Regions from separate parts of the Homo sapiens genome. Here region 1 is linked to region 2. The links come from fine-mapping of genetic effects on gene expression. A gene starts in region 2. The other region holds a variant in brackets. All regions are shown on one strand. Distances are between the middles of the regions. Region 1 has its middle 78 kb from the start of IRAK1BP1. Region 2 holds the start of IRAK1BP1 (interleukin 1 receptor associated kinase 1 binding protein 1).

The links. PIP is the estimated chance that this variant, and not a neighbour inherited with it, causes the effect.
Region 1: its variant is fine-mapped to the expression of IRAK1BP1 in blood mononuclear cells (TOPMed, PIP above 0.99). The same link has a PIP of 0.9 or more in cerebellum, minor salivary gland, unexposed skin and whole blood.

Annotation. Positions count from the first base shown.
Region 1 is chr6:78,784,974-78,793,873 of GRCh38, forward strand. No RefSeq gene overlaps it. Among named protein-coding and RNA genes, the nearest start is that of IRAK1BP1, 78 kb to the right of the region's middle. The variant C/G (reference allele first, on the strand shown) is at 5,396.
Region 2 is chr6:78,862,732-78,871,631 of GRCh38, forward strand. IRAK1BP1 (interleukin 1 receptor associated kinase 1 binding protein 1) reads left to right here and starts at 4,820. Exons shown (of 4, transcript NM_001010844.4): 1 at 4,820-5,160. The coding sequence starts at 4,846. It overlaps LOC107986613 (a long non-coding RNA gene), which reads right to left and starts at 4,759. Exons shown (of 2, transcript XR_001744210.2): 1 at 4,657-4,759. RefSeq lists enhancers at 4,715-4,824, 4,855-5,174, 5,007-5,607.

The DNA.
Region 1 (8,900 bases), 78 kb before region 2:
AAAAGAGCTCCTGAAGGAAGCACAAAACATGGAAAGGAACAATCGGTACCAGCCACTGCAAAAACATGCCAAATTGTAAAGTCCAGCAAGACTAGGAAGAAACTGCATCAACTAACGAGCAAAATAACCAGCTAACATCATAATGGCAGGATCAAATTCACACATAACAATATTAACCTTAAATGTAAATGGGCTAAATGCTCCAATTAAAAGGCACAGACTGGCAAATTGGATAAAGAGTCAAGACCCGTCAGTGTGCTGTATTCAGGAAACCCATCTCACATGCAGAGACACACATAGGCTCAAAATAAAAGGATGGAGGAAGATCTACCAAACAAATGGAAAACAAAAAAAGGCAGGGGTTGCCATCCTACTCTCTGATAAAACAGACTTTAAACCAACAAAGATCCAAAGAGACAAAGAAGGCCATTACATAATGGTAAAGGGATCAATTCAACAAGAACTAACTATCCTAAATATATATGCACCCAATACACGAGCACCCAGATTCATAAAGCAAGTCCTGAGTGACCCACAAAGTGACTTAGACTCTCACACAATAATAATGGGAGACTTTAACACCCCACTGTCAACATTAGACAGATCATGAGACAGAAAGTTAACAAGAATATCCAGGAATTGAACTCAGCTCTGCACCAAGCAGACCTAATAGACATCCACAGAACTCTCCACCCCAAATCAACAGAATATACATTCTTTTCAGCACCACACCACACCTATTCCAAAATTGACCACATGGTTGGAAGTAAAGCACTCCTCAGCAAATGTAAAAGAACAGAAATTATAACAAACTGTGTCTCAGACCACAGTGCAATCAAACTAGAACTCAGGATTAAGAAACTCACTCAAAACCACTCAACTACATGGAAACTGAACAACCTGCTCCTGAATGACTACTGGGTACATAACGAAATGAAGGCAGAAATAAAGATGTTCTTTGAAACCAACGAGAACAAAGACACAACATACCAGAATCTCTGGGACACATTCAAAGCAGTGTGTAGAGGGAAATTTATAGCACTAAATGCCCACAAGAGAAAGCAGAAAAGATCCAGAATTGACACCCTAACATCACAATTAAAAGAACTAGAAAAGCAAGAGCAAACACATTCAAAAGCTAGCAGAAGGCAAGAAATAACTAAGATCAGAGCAGAACTGAAGGAAATAGAGACACAAAAAACTCTTCAAAAAATCAATGAATCCAGGAGCTGGTATTTTGAAAAGATCAACAAAATTGATAGACCGCTAGCAAGACTACTAAAGAAGAAAAGAGAGAAGAATCAAATAGATGCAATAAAAAATGACAAAGGGGATATCACCACTGATCTCACAGAAATACAAACTACCATCAGAGAATACTGTAAACACCTCTACACAAATAAACTAGAAAATCTAGAACAACTGGATAAATTCCTCGACACATACACTCTCCAAAGACTAAACCAGGAAGAAGTTGAATCTCTGAATAGACCAATAACAGGCTCTGAAATTGAGGCAACAATTAATAGCTTACCAATCAAAAAAAGTCCAAGAACAGATAGATTGTATTTCTACATACTAGCAACAAATAATTAGAAAATGATATTTTATTATATACATATATATATATATTTTTTTTACTTTAAGTTCTGGGATACACATGCTGAGCATGCACGTTTGTTACATAGGTATACATGTTCCATGGTGATTTGCTGCACCTATTAACCCATCATCTAGGTTTCAAGCCCTGCGTGCATTAGGTGTTTGTCCTAATGCTCTCCCTCCCCTTTCCCCCCAGCCCCCTGACAGGCCCTGGTGTGTGATATTCCCCTCCCTGTGTCCATGTGTTCTCATTGTTCAACTCCCATTGATGAGTGAGAGCATGTGGTCTTTGGTTTTCTGTTCCTGTGTTAATTTGCAGAGGATGATGGTTTCCAGCTTCATCCATGTCCCTGCAAAGGACACGAACTCATTCTTTTTTATGGCTGCATAGTACTCCATTATGTATATATGACACATTTTCTTTATCCAGTCTAACATTGATAGGTATTTGGGTTGGTTCCAAGTCTTTGCTATTGTAAACAATGCTGCAATAAACATACATGTGCATGTGTCTTTATAGTAGAATGGTTTATAATCCTTTGGGTATATACCCAGTAATGGGGTTTCTGGATCAAATGGTATTTTTGCTCCTGAGTCCTTGAGGAATTGCCACACTGTCTTCCACAATGGTTGAACCAATTTACACTCCCACCAACATTGTAAAAGCGTTCCTAAGAAAATGATATTTTAAAATGCTATTTACAGTAGCCTAAAAACAATAATAAATGTAATGAAAACACTGAAAACTAAAAACCATTTCTCAAGAACATTTAAAGAAGATCTAAATAAATGAAGACAATTTAAATATATATGCTCTGGTCATGTATTTGAAGATTCAACATTATTAAACTATCAATAATTCCCCCAAATTAATCTGTATATCCAATTCAATCCTAACCAAAATCCCAAAAAAATCCATTTTAACTGTTGAACTCAGTTTACAATTTATATACAAATTCAAAGAATTTAGAATAGACAAAACAATTTTGAAAAACAACAAAGTTGTAGGATTTACACTCCCTGATTTCAAGATTTACTATAAAGCTATAGCGGTTTTTACAATGTGATCTTTGGCCAAGAATAGAGAAGTAAATCAATGGAACAAGATGAGGTCCAGCCATAAGCCCACCTATACATGGTCAATTGGTTTTCAACAAAAATACTAAGGCAATTTAAGAAAGAAAGATAATGTTAATAAATGGTCTGGAACAACTGAATCTCCATAAGAAAAAAAGAAGAATCTTGACCACTACCTCTTACCATGCTAAAAAAAAAAAGGGGGAGGCGGGTGAATATCTTCATGAGTGTGGAGTAAAGATTTGTTTACACTAGGCCAAAATATGTGTGTGTGTGTATATATATATATAAACTTTAATAAATTTTACTTCATCAAAATTAAAAACTATAACTATTCAAAAACACCATTATGAAAATGAAAAGGTGATCCACAGATTGGGAGGTAAATCTTTCCAAAACATGTATCTGACTAGTATTAAAGATATACAAAGAGTTCTGTATCAATCAGGGCTTGATTAATGAAACAGAACCACTAAGAGTCCCATACATATGTGTATGTATATATATATATATATATATATATATATATATATATATATATATATATGTATATAAACATATTTCATTATATGGATTTGATCTCATACATTTATGGGAGACTGTCTCTGTGAAACTGTTGTCTGTACATCTGATACTAGAGTCTGAGATCTGCTAATAAAGCAGTCAGGAAGAGAAATTAAATGCAATGTGAGAGAAGCAAGAAGAAACTCACCTATAAGGATGGGCTGAAATCTCCAAGGACAGACTGTACCAATCTCTCACCAACTTCAATCAAGCTTCCAACTTCAATGATTAGGGAGATGTATTAGTTTGCTAGAGTTGCCAGAGCAACACGATAAAAACTGGATAGCTTAAAATAGAAATTTATTGTCTTGGTTCTAGAGGCTAGAAATCTCAGATGAAGACATTAGCAGGGTTGGTTCCTCCTGAGAGCTGTGAGGGAGAACCTCTTCCATTCTTCTTGTTTAGCTTCTGGTGGTTTGCTGGCAATCTTTGGCATTCCTTGGTATCTGCTACATCACCCTAATCTCTTCCTTCATCTTCACATGGCATTCTCTGTGAATGTGTGTGTCTCTGTGTTCACATTGTCCCTTCTCAAAAGGACACCACTGTATTTGGATTAGGGCCCACTCTAATGACTCATTTTAACTTGATTACCTTTGTCTCTACAAAGACTCTATCTCTAAATAAGGTTACATTCCGGGGTACTGAAGGCTAGTATCCCAACATATATTTTTGGGGAGACACAAATTCAACTGACTACAGGAGATAAGTATGTACCTGGCCCAGGATTCAGCACAATGTAAAGAGGAAGTCTGGCTGGAGGAGCTATGAACTCAGATGCCACCTCATGCTCACAGGGTGACCAGCAAATTAGCAACAGTGTGTGTGAGCTGCAACAGTGCCACCTGCCTTGCTCCAGCTTTCCATGAATAAAAAGAAGATAGTTGCTGCTTTATGTCTGCATTCTAAATCCTGCACAAATTTTCAGGCTCAAAACAACCAGAGAGGGACATCCCAGAAAAAAGTAGTTCCAGTTTAGTTAAGGTGACACAATAGCAACTTCACCACAAACTCATACAACACAATGCAGACAAAATGCAATTTTCAAATGAATAAAAGGTTTAGATATACCTTTCACAATATGAGATACATAAATGGACAAGAAACACATTTAAAGGTGTTTATTCCCATTAGTCTTCAGGAAAGTGCAAATTAAAATCATAATGACATACTACTGAATATCCCCCAAATGGCTAACGTTAAAACAAAAACCGGGGCATATCAAATGTTGATTGCAATGAGTTTTTAAGTTATCTTGAAGCACATGAAAATACTTTACCCAGCCAATAGTATATTCTATCATTATGGTAATTCATAATGATGATGTACCTTTATATTTGATTCCTTTACCAACTAAAGTGGGCATAGCCACTTTCAAGGCATAACAATGGCTCCCCAAAATGTTCACATTCTAATCTCAGAACCTATGAATATGTTAGGTTACATGGTAAAGGGAAACTAAGGTTGCAGAGGAAATTGAAGTTGTTAATCAGCTGACCTTAAAATAGAGAGATTATCTTGGATTATCCAATGGGTCCAGTGTAATCACAAGGATCATTCAAAAAAGGGGGAAGCAGAAGAGGGAGTGTCAGAGAAAAACATATAACAACAAAAGTATCATCAAAGCTACATTGCTAGCTTTGAAGATGGAGGAATGAGACCCCAAATCAGTGAATGTGAGCAGGCTCTAGAAGCTGGAAAAGACAAGGAAACAGATTTTCTCCTAGTACAACCAGAAAGTAACACAGCCTGGTGGGCACCTTGATTTTAGCCCCAAGCAACTTGTGTTGGATTTCTGACCTACAAAACCATAAGATAATAAATTCGTGTTTTAAAGTGTGTAGTAATTTGTTACATCAGCCATTGGAAGTTAACACAAGTAGATACTATTAAGATTGTTTTACAGATAAAATAAAGCAGGGAAGTCCAGCATCTGGGCTATCACCAGTTGCTCACAGGGCCCAGACAGTCTACACCTTATGTTTCTGGGCTCTCACTCCATGATTCCTTCCACAGTGCCACCCAGCTTTCTCTGGGTGTGAGCAGGATCATGTCAGCAAATGACTCAAAGAAATTATGAGCAGTGAGACTCAGACATGGAACAGGTCTTAGCTTTCTGATAAGAAAGTCACGTACATCTCCACTCTCAAAA[C/G]TTCATGGATTTGAGCAGGGCACAGTGGCTCACACCTGTAATCCCAGCACTTTGGAAGGCCAAGTTAGGAGGATCACTTGAGGCCAGGAGTTGGAGACCAGCCTGGGAAACATAATTAGACCTAATCTCTGAGAAAAAAAAAATTAATTAGCTGGGGAAAGCTGGAATCATTCCCCTTGAAAACAAGCACAAGACAAGGATGACTCCTCTCACCACTCCTATTCAATATAGAATTGGAAGTCCTAGCCAGCACAACCAGGCAAGAGAGAGAGAGAAAAAGGGCATCTGAATAGGAAGAGAGAAAGTCAAACTATTCCTATTTGCAGATAACATAATCCTATTAACTAGAAAATCCCATAGTTTCAGCCCAAAAGCTTCTTGCTGATAAACAATTTCAGCAAAGTCTCAGGATATCAAAATCAGTGTACAAAAATCACTAGCATTTCTACACACAAACAACAGTCAAGCCAAGAGCCAAATCAGGAATGAACTCCCATTCACAATTGCCACAAAAAGAAGAAAATACCTAGGAATACAACTAGCTATGGAGGTGAAAGATCTCTATGAGGAGAACTATAAACCACTACTCAAAAAAATCAAACATGGCATAAACAATTGGAAAAATATTCCATGCTCATGGATAGGAAGAATCAATATTGTTAAAATAGCCATACCGCCCCAAGCAATTTATAAATTGAATGCTATTCCTATTAAACTACCAACGACATTCTTCACAGAACCAGAGAAAACGATCTTAAAATTCATATGAAACCAAAAAAGAGCCCAAATAGCCAAGGCATTCCTCAACAAAAAGGACAAAGCTGGAGGCATCACACTATCTGACTTCAAACTACTGTACCGGGCTACAGTCACAAAAGCAGCACGATACTGGTACAAAAACAGACACATAGACAAATGGAACAGAATAGAGAACCCAGAAATAAGACCATACACCAACTATTATCTGATCTTTGACAAATCTTACAAAAACAAGCAATGGGGAAAGGATTCCCTACTCAATAAATGGTGTTGGGAAAACTGGCTAGCCATAGGCAGAGGTTGAAACTGGTCCCCTTCCTAACACCTATATGAAAATTAACTCAAGATGAATTAAAGACTTAAATGTAAAACCCAAAAGTATAAAAACTCTGGAAGATAACCTAGGCAATAACATTCAGGATATAGGCACAGAGAAAGATTTCATGTCAAAGATGCCAAAACAATTGCAACAAAAACAAAAATTGACACATGGGATTTAATGAAACTAAAGAGCTTCTGAACATCAAAAGAAACTATCCACAGAGTAAACAGACAGCCTACAAAATGGGAGAAAATTTTTGCAAACCATGCATCCAAGAAAAGTCTAATATACAGCATCTATGAGGAACTTAAACAAATGTATAAGAAAGAAACAACACCATAAAAAGTAAGCAAAGGACATAAACAGACACTTTTCATAAAAAGACATACTTGTGGCCAACAACCATATGAAAAAAAGCTCAATATTACTGATCATTAAAGAAATGCAAATCAAAACCACAATGAGATACTATCTCACATCAGCCATAGTGACTATTAATTAAAAGTCAAAAAGTAACAGAAGCTGGCAAGGTTTGGGAGAAAAAGGAACACTTATATACTGTTAGTGGGAGTGTAAATTAGTTCAGCCATTGTGGAAGACAGTGTGGCAATTCCACAAAGACCTAAAGACAGAAATACGATTTGACCCAGCAATCCCATTAATGGGTATATACCCAAAGGAATATAAATATTATATTTATTTATATATATTATAAAGACACATGCACATATATGCTCATTGCAACACTATTCACAATAGCAAAGATGTGCAATCAACCTAAATGTCCATCAGTGAGAGACTGGATAAAGAAAATATGGTATATATACACCATGGAATACCATGCTGCCATAAAAAATAACAAGATCATGCTCTTTGCAGGAACATGGATGGAGCTGGAGGCCATTATCCTTAGCAAACTAACACAAGAATGGAAAAACAAATATCACATTGTCTCACTTATAAGTGGGAGCTAAATAAGGAGAACACATGGGCACATGGAGGAGATACTGGGGCCTACTTGAGTGTGGACAGTGGGAGGAGGGAGAGGATTTGGAAAAATAACTAAAGGGTAGTAGGCTTAATACCTGGATGACGAAAAAATCTGTACAACAATCCCCCATGACACAAGTTTACCTAAGTAACAGACTTTCACTTGTACCCTTGAACTTAAAAGTTAAAAAAATATCAGCCAGGTGTGGTGACGCACACCTGTAGTCTTAGTTACTCAAGAGGCTGAGGTGGGAGGATCCAGCAGTTCAAGGTTATAGTGGGCCACGATCACACCACTCCATTCCAGGCTTGATGACAGAACAAGATCCAGTCTCTAAGAAAAAAATTAAAATCTCTGTGAACTTGAACTGAAAATATATAACACGAGAGGTTTTTTTTCTTTTTATTTTCTTTTTTTTTTTTTTTTTTTTTTGAGACAGAGTCTTGCTCTGTCACCCGGGCTGGAGTGCAGTGGCACGATCTTGGCTCACTGCAGCCTCTACCTCCCAGGTTCAAGCAGTTCTCCTGCCTCAACGTACTGAGTAGCTGGGATTACAGGCACACGCCACCATACCTGGCTAATTGTTTTTACTTTTTAGTAGAGACAGGGTTTCACCATGTTGGCCAGGCTTGTCTCCAACTCCTGACCTTAGGTGATCCACCCACCTCAGCCTCCCAAAGTGCTGGGATTACAGGCATGAGCCACCATGCCCAGCAATGTGAGAGTACACTTATCTTGCTTTGCCCAAAGATGTGTCAGCAACATAACCTTCAGACTAAAACCAAAAATTTCAATTTAGAGTATTTATCCCAGGACCTAAAAGACACTAAGGCCTACCACACACATCAATCATTTTAAACAATTTTATAGGAGGACTATGTGAATTTATGTTATTGAGCCTCTTGTGGCTTGGTACCAGGAGTCTCCTTTTGTAAGAAATCAAATAAATGACCCTGACCTTCTTCAAGAATTGAAAAGTGGTTCAGAGAAGTACTTTGTTTTATCCGGGTAGCAGGTTAAGTATCAAAGTATCATCCCTTAGAGAAACTGATTTAACACATTAAATTATGAAGCAATCTAGAGTGTCCCCAGGGCTGCTGCTTATTATTGACAACATAAGTAGGTGGTCTAGAAGTAAATGAATATATGGGAAGAGCACAGCAGCTACACGTTTCCCAACTCCATGGGGGCATCATTCACATAAAAGACATGTGAGCAGTGACCTCTAGAATTGTACATTACCCTCAGTCCCTGAGGGTTTGAGATTTTTTGAGACTGTATACTCTTCAGCCTGTCACACTCATAAACTGCCTCCTTGTTCATGGATGGAAAAGGTTGTCCCTTAAACACTGTGATTTGAGGAAGAAAGAAGGATCCATCTTCTTGATAATCCCCCTCCCCACAAGTTAAAAGGCTGAAACTTCACCTCAAAT
Region 2 (8,900 bases):
GTGGATTGGCTGATTCAGGTTTATTTTCACTCAGATATCAAGATACACTTGAGAGCACTTTTCCTGGACTAAATTGTAACTTTCAAGGTGAAGATGTAATCATGAGACTAGAACCCTGTGTAAGGGGGCAGCAGAGACAAGTAAACAAAGCTGACTGGCAAAAATCCCCATGGTCCACACAGCATCCTATTCTACCTGTATCATTTAAGGTGCCAGAAGATAAACAACCGCAACCTATTAAGAAAGCAAGAAACAAACCTGGAAATAAAATAAAAGCCTAGACGGAAAGCTATACCCAGTGTCTGGGTTATTTGTGAGATAAAATAGGATAATACCTCACTTCATTTCTGGAAAGTCTAAATCCAATTACTTAAAAAAAAAAACTCACTATAGAGAACATTAACAAATATTTATCTCTTTCTACTTTTCCCAATCACTTTTCCTTAACCCTTTGCTATCTGGTTAACAGTAAAACATTTCTTTGAATGGTCACTAAAAATCTGCTAAATATTACATGCAATAGGCATGTCTTCATCTTCAAGTTTTTGACCTGTACCATGACATTATGGATCACCTCTTTTTGACAATTATACAAACTTTGGTTCCACAACATTGTACTATCTTAATCTTTCCCTTACCCCTTTGAGCCTTTTTTCTGTTCCTTTTGGCTTCTTCATTTACCAATATATTTTCCATAAGTATTTAATTATAAAGTGTAACAAAGTCTAAAGTGATTTTAGTACATCTGACATCTTTTTGAACAAGGCAAGGACCTTAATACACACTTCTAGGTTAGGTTTTTTTCCCCCTCAGGATTTAGAATGTATTATTCCATTCTCTTCTGACACTTGGGATTTTAATTTTTGAGATGTTTGGAATTGCCCATCATAAGCTGGGTACTGTCAGAGACTTCAACTCAAAGTCAGATACCCCACCAGAAACAGATAAAAAGATAATGGCACATCTGAGACACAAGCACCAGAGGGTATAAGCAAGCTGCATGAGCAAGCAGCTCAGACGCCCATGCCACCCACCAAGGTTGCACCAAAACACCTCCCTCACCTCACACCAATGGCTATGTAGGGATTACTCTATGGCCAACTGAAGGAGGAGGAAAAAAACCTGAGCTTTTATGGCAAGATTATGGATAGGCTGGCTTGGTATGCAGGTGCCAGTAAAAAATGAGAAGCAGCTGTGGAACAACGTCACTTGTAAAATCTCTGAATAACAGTGGAGAAGGAAAATTTCCCCAAAAGGTGAAGCTTTGAGCAGTGCACCTACAGATCCACTTTGTGTGAAGTTCTATAAATTCCTTCAGGCTGACAGGTATAAAAGTCAGCTTTAAATTCTCCTTCTCATTTATTCTTATCAGTCTTGGTTTTAAGATAACATAAAACTTGGTCAAGCTACTTATGCAAAAAAAAGGGGGAGGGGAATTTTTATAAGGATACAGGAATATTTTAGAGAACTCCAGGGCAGGAATGAAACCAGGCCTAAGAAAAAATTCTTAAAAAAGAGACTGGAATTGCATCTGGACTATTTTTCCATCTCACCTCTGATCCTCTTGGAAAGTATCATTTTCTCTTTCTCTCTCTTTCTCCCCACCCCATCTCTACACTTTTTCTATTTCTCTAATAGAAAAATGGCCAATCTATATCTCCCAAGGTTTTACATAAATATATATATGAGTGTATGTCACAGCCCTGTCACCTAAGAGACTAAATTTTTAAAATTTGGTGTAAATATAGATTCTCATGTGAAAAATTCCAACGGGTTCAACTGGAATTAGGTACCTATTCTTAGTACAATCAACTTGGTAGAGTCACCTTATTCAAAACAGTTGCTAGGGGCTCAGCCTTGACTCTGAGAGAGAACTGGGCTACTATGAGCTGAACAAATAGCTCTATGCTCTTCATTCATTCTCCCAATCATTCCAGCTGAAAACTTCATAAGTCAGTTTAGGCTTATCCTTCTCTTTCATATACTATTAATTTATAGTTCTGTCACAAAGAATTAATTCATTCTTCTTTCAAAATCCAGTATTATCTATTCCTTCTCCATTCTCACGGGCTTTGTTATTTGCCAAAATGATAGTTCAAAAACAGACATTACACTGTAGTTAAATTTGCATTTCTTAAACTACTGGTGAGGATAAACTATTTTTTTTTTCATCCTATAGACTACTAACATTTCTGCTTTCTTGGTCTGTATTGTGGACTTGTGTTCCCCAAAATTCGTATGTTGGAGTGCTCTTCAATGTGACTGTGTTTGGAACAGGGCTTTTAAGAAGGTAATTAAGGTTAAATGGAAGTCACAAAGGTGAGGCTCTATGAAGAGACATCGGGGTAATGTGCACAGAGGCAAGGCTATGTGAGGATGCTGCAAGAAAGTAGCCGTCTGCAAGCCAACCAGAAAGGCCTTGGGGGAAACCAAAACTGCTGACACCTTAATCTTGGACTTCTAGGCCCCAGAACTGTGAGAAAATAAATTTGTGCTGTTTAAGCTCCAAAGTCTTTGAAGCCGAAAGACTTTTGTTATGGCAATAGCAATCTAATACAGTTTGCCTCAGTGTTCATTATTTTTCTTTTGACACGTTTGTTTCTTCTAGCAACAGTTCTCTAAGCATTAAGACTCTTAGCCCTTTATACATAATAAACATTAACAAACATTTTTCCCCATTTATTTGCCCCCCCACCTTTGTTTTTATTTTGCTTTATATAACTGATTTTTTTTAGTATAGTCCAATTTTTCAAACTTTTCCTTCATGGTTGCTGCACATGAAATTATGATTAAGGCCAGCCTTCCCATCCCCCAGAATATTTATATTTACATATAGGTTCTTCCAATTATTTTTCTTTTTGGTCTCATCTGAATTATTTTCAATGTATGATATAAGATACAAATTCTTTAAAAATATAGCTTACAATGGGCCAGGCACCGTGGCTCATGCCTGTAATCCCAGCACTTCGGGAGGCCGAGGTGGACGGATCACGAGGTCAGGAGATCGAGACCATCCTGGCTAACACGGTGAAACCCCATCTCTACTAAAAATACAAAAAAATTAGCCGGGCGTGGTGGCGGGCACATGTAGTCCCAGCTACTCGGGAGCTGAGGCAGGAGAATGGCGTGAACCCGGGAGGCGGAGCTTGCAGTGAGCCCAGATCGCACCACTGCACTCCAGCCAGAATGACAGAGCGAGACTCCGCCTCAAAAAAAAAAAAATATATATATATATAAAATATACTATAGCTATATAGCTATAGTATATTATATATATAGCTTACAATTATCCCTGTACCATGTAATCATTTTCCACTGATATGAAATCTTTTATCGTATACTAAATACTTACACTTTAACTCCTGTTGCTTTTTGTTTATGACATTCACTCATTCAATAATTTATTTTGGAGGCTATATTCTTCCGCATTTATCGTAAGGGAAAAAGAATTTTTCACCAAGTTTAAGAAACATTATTTTGGGTGTCTTAAATAATAAAAGACTATGACGGAAAGTTCTTAACGTTAGTTTTTAAATTAAAATTGTTTTCAGCTAACAATAAACAAGATGGATATACACAAAATTATGTTAATCTAGTGATGAGCCTAATTAAAGGAGGGGGGTACCATTGATTTAGTTGAATTATACTAATCGAAAAGAACAGAAAAAACGATGGTGAAGAAACTACAAGAGGACTGTCAGCTTTTCAGGGTCCTTTTAAAAGAACAGTTCTTGTCCTTCTAGAACTAGTTATTCAAAATTCTTTTTTCCCCCCTCGATTCTCTTGATAAAATTCAGATAGTAAAGACGTATAAGTCAGTGGGGCTATTTTTACAAAGATCATTGCTTAGTGCTAGGAAGAGAATCCAGAAGACGGGAAGTTGAGGGTTGTGTTCTAAAAGTTCTCTGAAGAAAAGGGTACAGAGAAGCTCCAAGTTGTGCAGGCCCAGCAAACTCCATGTTGGACGTGCTTTGCTACCACCTAAATCTCTTCTGTCGGAATTCAAGGCCCGAACCATTCCAGGGATTTTAGAAAAAAATGGGGAGACACAAAAATGATGCCAAAGCCATAGCTATCATTACAAACATCCATTATGTTCACTCTGCTTTCCATATGCAACGCACTCTACATACAATGGGCGCCTTATAAGCACATAGCAAATGTGAAAAATATTATCAACATTGCTTTGATAATATTAATATATTATATATATTAGAATATATTATATATTAGAATATATTATATATATTAGAATATATTATATATTACTAATATAAAAAATATTATCAACCCTGCTTTAGAGAAGATGATACTGAGATATGAAGAATCATAAACTGTCCAAGATCACAGGGGCAAAAAGTTCACCTCAACTGAAACCTCTCACGAACCACAAAAATGTGGCCGAGGGAGCCTCAAAAAGCAGTACCCCAAGCGGGGACGGTAAAGTCAGAAAAGACAAGGCTGGGGGTAATCACAGAGAAATCTAAAAACCCGCTCGGCCTCGCTACTCTTCTCCTTCCTCTGAGGTGCAGAGGCGCGGTGGGACGACAAGGAGTTGCGAGAAAGGGCAGAGCTCACTGAGGAGGCAACAGAGAAAGTCCGCTAACAATTTTTGAAGGCCGTAAGTTAAACATGTTAAAAACTGTAGCTACTCACTCAGCCGACATCTAGTAAAAAAGATGCGGCAAGATCAACAAGGCATATAGCTTGCGCCCGCCAGAAGTTCCGCGGCCTCCACACCCATCCCGGCATACTTTGCGCCGTGCACAGGCAAGCCCTGGTGCGCATTGGCCCCTTCGGCCGCCGTCGGCCGGTAGTTACTATGGAAACCCAGCTGCCATCGCTATGTCTCTGCAAAAGACCCCTCCGACCCGAGTGTTCGTGGAACTGGTTCCCTGGGCTGACCGGAGCCGGGAGAACAACCTGGCCTCAGGGAGAGAGACGCTACCGGGCTTACGCCACCCCCTCTCCTCAACACAAGCCCAAACTGCTACCCGCGAGGTGCAAGTAAGCGGCACCTCAGAAGTGTCTGCGGGCCCTGACCGGGCGCAGGTGGTGGTGCGAGTGAGCAGCACCAAGGAGGCGGCAGCCGAGGCCAAAAAGAGCGTTTGTCGCCGTCTAGATTACATCACGCAGAGCCTCCAGCAGCAGGGCGTGCAGGTGAGATCTCCGCGGGGGAGGAAATAAGAGCCGGAAGACACAAAAGGGTTGGCAGATGGTCGGGCCCCACAGGCCCCCCTAGCGGGAAGGGAGATGTGGAGGGTCTGGAGCGTTTAGGACGCGTTTGTTGCAAAGGTACTCCGGGACGCCAGGACCTGGCAGAGTGAATATTTGACCCATTCTTCTCCTAGACGAAGGTAATTATTGGCCTCAGGCAAATTAAAAATAAAAGAATGCAAATTGGGTAGGTTTTTATCTGGGGATATTTGCTTCAGTGATTTTGTTTTTAAATTTAAAGTGATGAAATGTTAAAACTTGAAATGTTAGTTGTAAATACTTGCCCACGTGGAGTGCTGGACACTAAATATTTTGTTTTGTTTTGTTTTTATTCCGCACCATGGAATTGGCAAGTGAAGAGCACGACCTGCTTCCTTCCGATCATGTAAAACTTTGCATGGAATGGTTCTTGAGTATGTTCCGCAAACAGTAACGTTGGGAAGTGGGGAAGAAGTTGCGTCCATTTTCATTTTATAATGATTTTCATTTTATAGTGATTCCCCCAAAATTTCTTCGGCCTTCTTAGGTTTAACTTAAAAGAAAAAATCAAGCCAGTATTGTGGATACCACATATACGAAATACTTCTACTTACTTAACGGAGATGTCCATGAGACAAATCACTAAACAAATCTTACCTTAAGCCTACTCCTAAGGCAAGAAAAAAAATGAAGCCATCATTTAATCCACACAATAGCACTGTTAGGCATGTTTTAATATCCCTGTTTTCCAAATTTAAAGAGGTTAAACAATGCTCTGAACTTTAGGTAGAGCAATATTTGAACTCATGTATTCCTGAAACCAGAATGTAAGTTGCTTCCAATTCTGCCGATAATTAGAATGAAAGAAAATTAGAAATCATAGGGATCAACGATTTCAGTTTTCTCATTTTATAGAGTAGGACCCCAAAGGCCAGAGATGTAACTTATCCAGGATGACATTGAGTTGGTAAAAGTGCAGGCATTGTTACTTCCAGTCTATTGCAAGAAATTCCATACCCCGAAAAAGCAAGTCCTTATTTTTAACAAGAAAAGATATTTGAATTGCATTTATAATACAAACATACAAGTTATTACAAAGTCATTTGGACAAGATTTCTTCAAATGATTTTACAATTTAGAAAAATACAGATAATTATAAATAATGTGAGTAAAGTGGGTTTAATATGTAGAAAAATAGTTTTAAAAAACTGCTACTAGTGCTGTAGTCGTTTGAATAATGTTAACAAGTTTTTAAGTTATTTACATAAAATAAAAAGAGCTCACAGGTCTCTAATATATAAAACAACATAAGCTGGGCATGGTGGCTCATGCCTGTAATGCCAACACTTTGGGAGGCCAAGGCAGGTGGATCACTTGAGGCCAGGAGTTCGAGACCAGCCTGGCCAACATGGCAAAACCCAATCTCTAGTAAAAATACAAAAATTAGGTGGGCATGGTGGCACAGTCCTGTAATCCCAGCTACTAGGGTGACTGAGGCAGGAAAATCTCTTGAATCCGGGAGGCGAAGGTTTCAGTGAGCCGAGATGGTGCCACTGCACTCCAGCTTGGGTGACAGAGACTCTGTCTCAAATAAGTAGTAAGTAAATAAATTAACTAAGTCCAACTTAGAGTAATCAAGATTCAGTGTTCAAGGCAAGACATAAGAAAGACAGTAACCTCCCAATTATCTCTGCTAATGGATGAAAGCAGTCAGGTAGATAATTTGTTCAGGAGATAATACAAAATATCATTTATATTTTCAGAATGAATTATGGGTCTTCACAAAGTCTGTATTCATTTTAAACTTTAGAATTCTGAGCTGTAAGATTTATAAACATCACTTCCCTGCTTAAAGGGCTCCTCATAATCCAAACTCCTTTGCTTAAAAGATGGAGCCTGAGCCGGGCGTGGTGGCTCACGCCTGTAATCCCATCACTTTGGGAGGCCGAGGAGGGCAGATCACCTGAGGTGAGGAGTTCAAGACCAGCCTGACCAACATGGTGAAATCTCGTCTCTACTAAAAATACCAAAATTAGCCAAGCATGGTGGTGCATGCCTGTAATCCCAGTTACTTGTGAGGCTGAGGCAGGAGAATTGCTTGAACCCAGGAGGCGGAGGTTGCAGTCAGCTGAGTTCGTGCCATTGCACTCCAGCCTGGGCAACAAGAGTGAAACTCCGTCCCAAAAAAAAAAAAAAAAAAAAAAAAAAAAAAAGATGGAGCCTGACTATCCTCATCTCCTATCATATCTTCCTCCCCTCTATTGTATTTTTCTTTAAGAATTAGCCCAAGTCTGAGCTATGGAAGTGAGACACTGTCTCAAAAAAAAAAAGAAAAGAAAAGAATCAGCCCAAATTCACCTTCTTGGCATTCCTTTCCTAATATAACACTAATCCCTGCCATGCAACACTTCACTCCCTATACTTGTAATAAAAACTTATCCTGTATCATAATTCTTAATTTACTTGTTTCTCCTCCATATTCTAAACTTCTCCAGAGCCAAGACCATTTGTTCTTTTTTTGCCTGTATGAGTTATGGTCCATACACTTCACATAATGTGTACTCAGAAAATGCCTTCTGAATGAATAATAGAAAAAAAATGAAACAATAAGTGAACAAATTATTCAGCTATGGTATAGATCATAGATTTATGAACTTGTGTGAAGGTATAATCCTTACTTCTAGCGTGGTTTTCATTGAAAAGTGTTTTAAAGTTCTAAGCAATATTTACTCATTCAACCAACAAACATTAAGCCTTTCTTTTCATTGTTCATTTTTGTTTTTGGTTTTTGTTTTTTTTTGAGATGGAGTTTCGCTTTTGTCGCCCAGGCTGGAGTACAATGGAGGCAGTCTAGGCTCACTGCAACCTCCGCCTCCCAGGTTCAAGCAATTCTCCTGCCTCAGCCTCCCAAGTAGCTGGGATTACAGGCGCCTGCCACCACGCCTGGTAATTTTTGTATGTTTAGTAGAGATGGGGTTTCACTGTGTTGGCCAGGCTGGTCTCGAACTCCTGACTGATCCCCCACCTCAACCTCCCAAAATGCTGGGATTACAGGCGTGAGCCACTGCGCCTGGCCCATTGTTCATTTTTAAACAATACTTTATATTGTCTTAGTTTGTTTGGTCTGCTGTAATGAAAAACCATAGCCTGGGTAGCTTATAAACAACAGAAATGTGTATCTTACAGTTCTGGAATCTGGGCATCCAAGATCAAGGAGCCAGTAGATTTGGTATATAGTGAATGCTACCAAGAATTACCCTGATATCTCTGCTTCCCCTTTATTTTCTTCTCTCTCCAACTGTAGGCATAAAATGACCTCACAATGTCTGGTCCTCCCTCACAAAAGTGTTTCGGTCACTCAGGATGCATATCTAAGTTCTAGTGCAAGAGAGGACTAGGAGTAAATGCTGAAGGGAGTGTTTAACCCCTTTAACCCATTGCAGTATGAGCAAGACTACTGTAAGATTCCTTTAACACAGTGCAACCAAAAGACAGACACCTTTTCTCCTTTTTGCTTCACAACAGACCACCTCAGCCACCATGACACCCAGTAGGAGGTATTCCACAGGAACAGCAGACGAGAACTTACCTTACATCATGACACATCAAGGCATATAGTTCTTGCAATGGACTAAATGTTTGTTTCCCCCCAAAATTTATAGTTGAAACCTAATCCCAAGTATGATGGTATTCGGAGGAGGCTT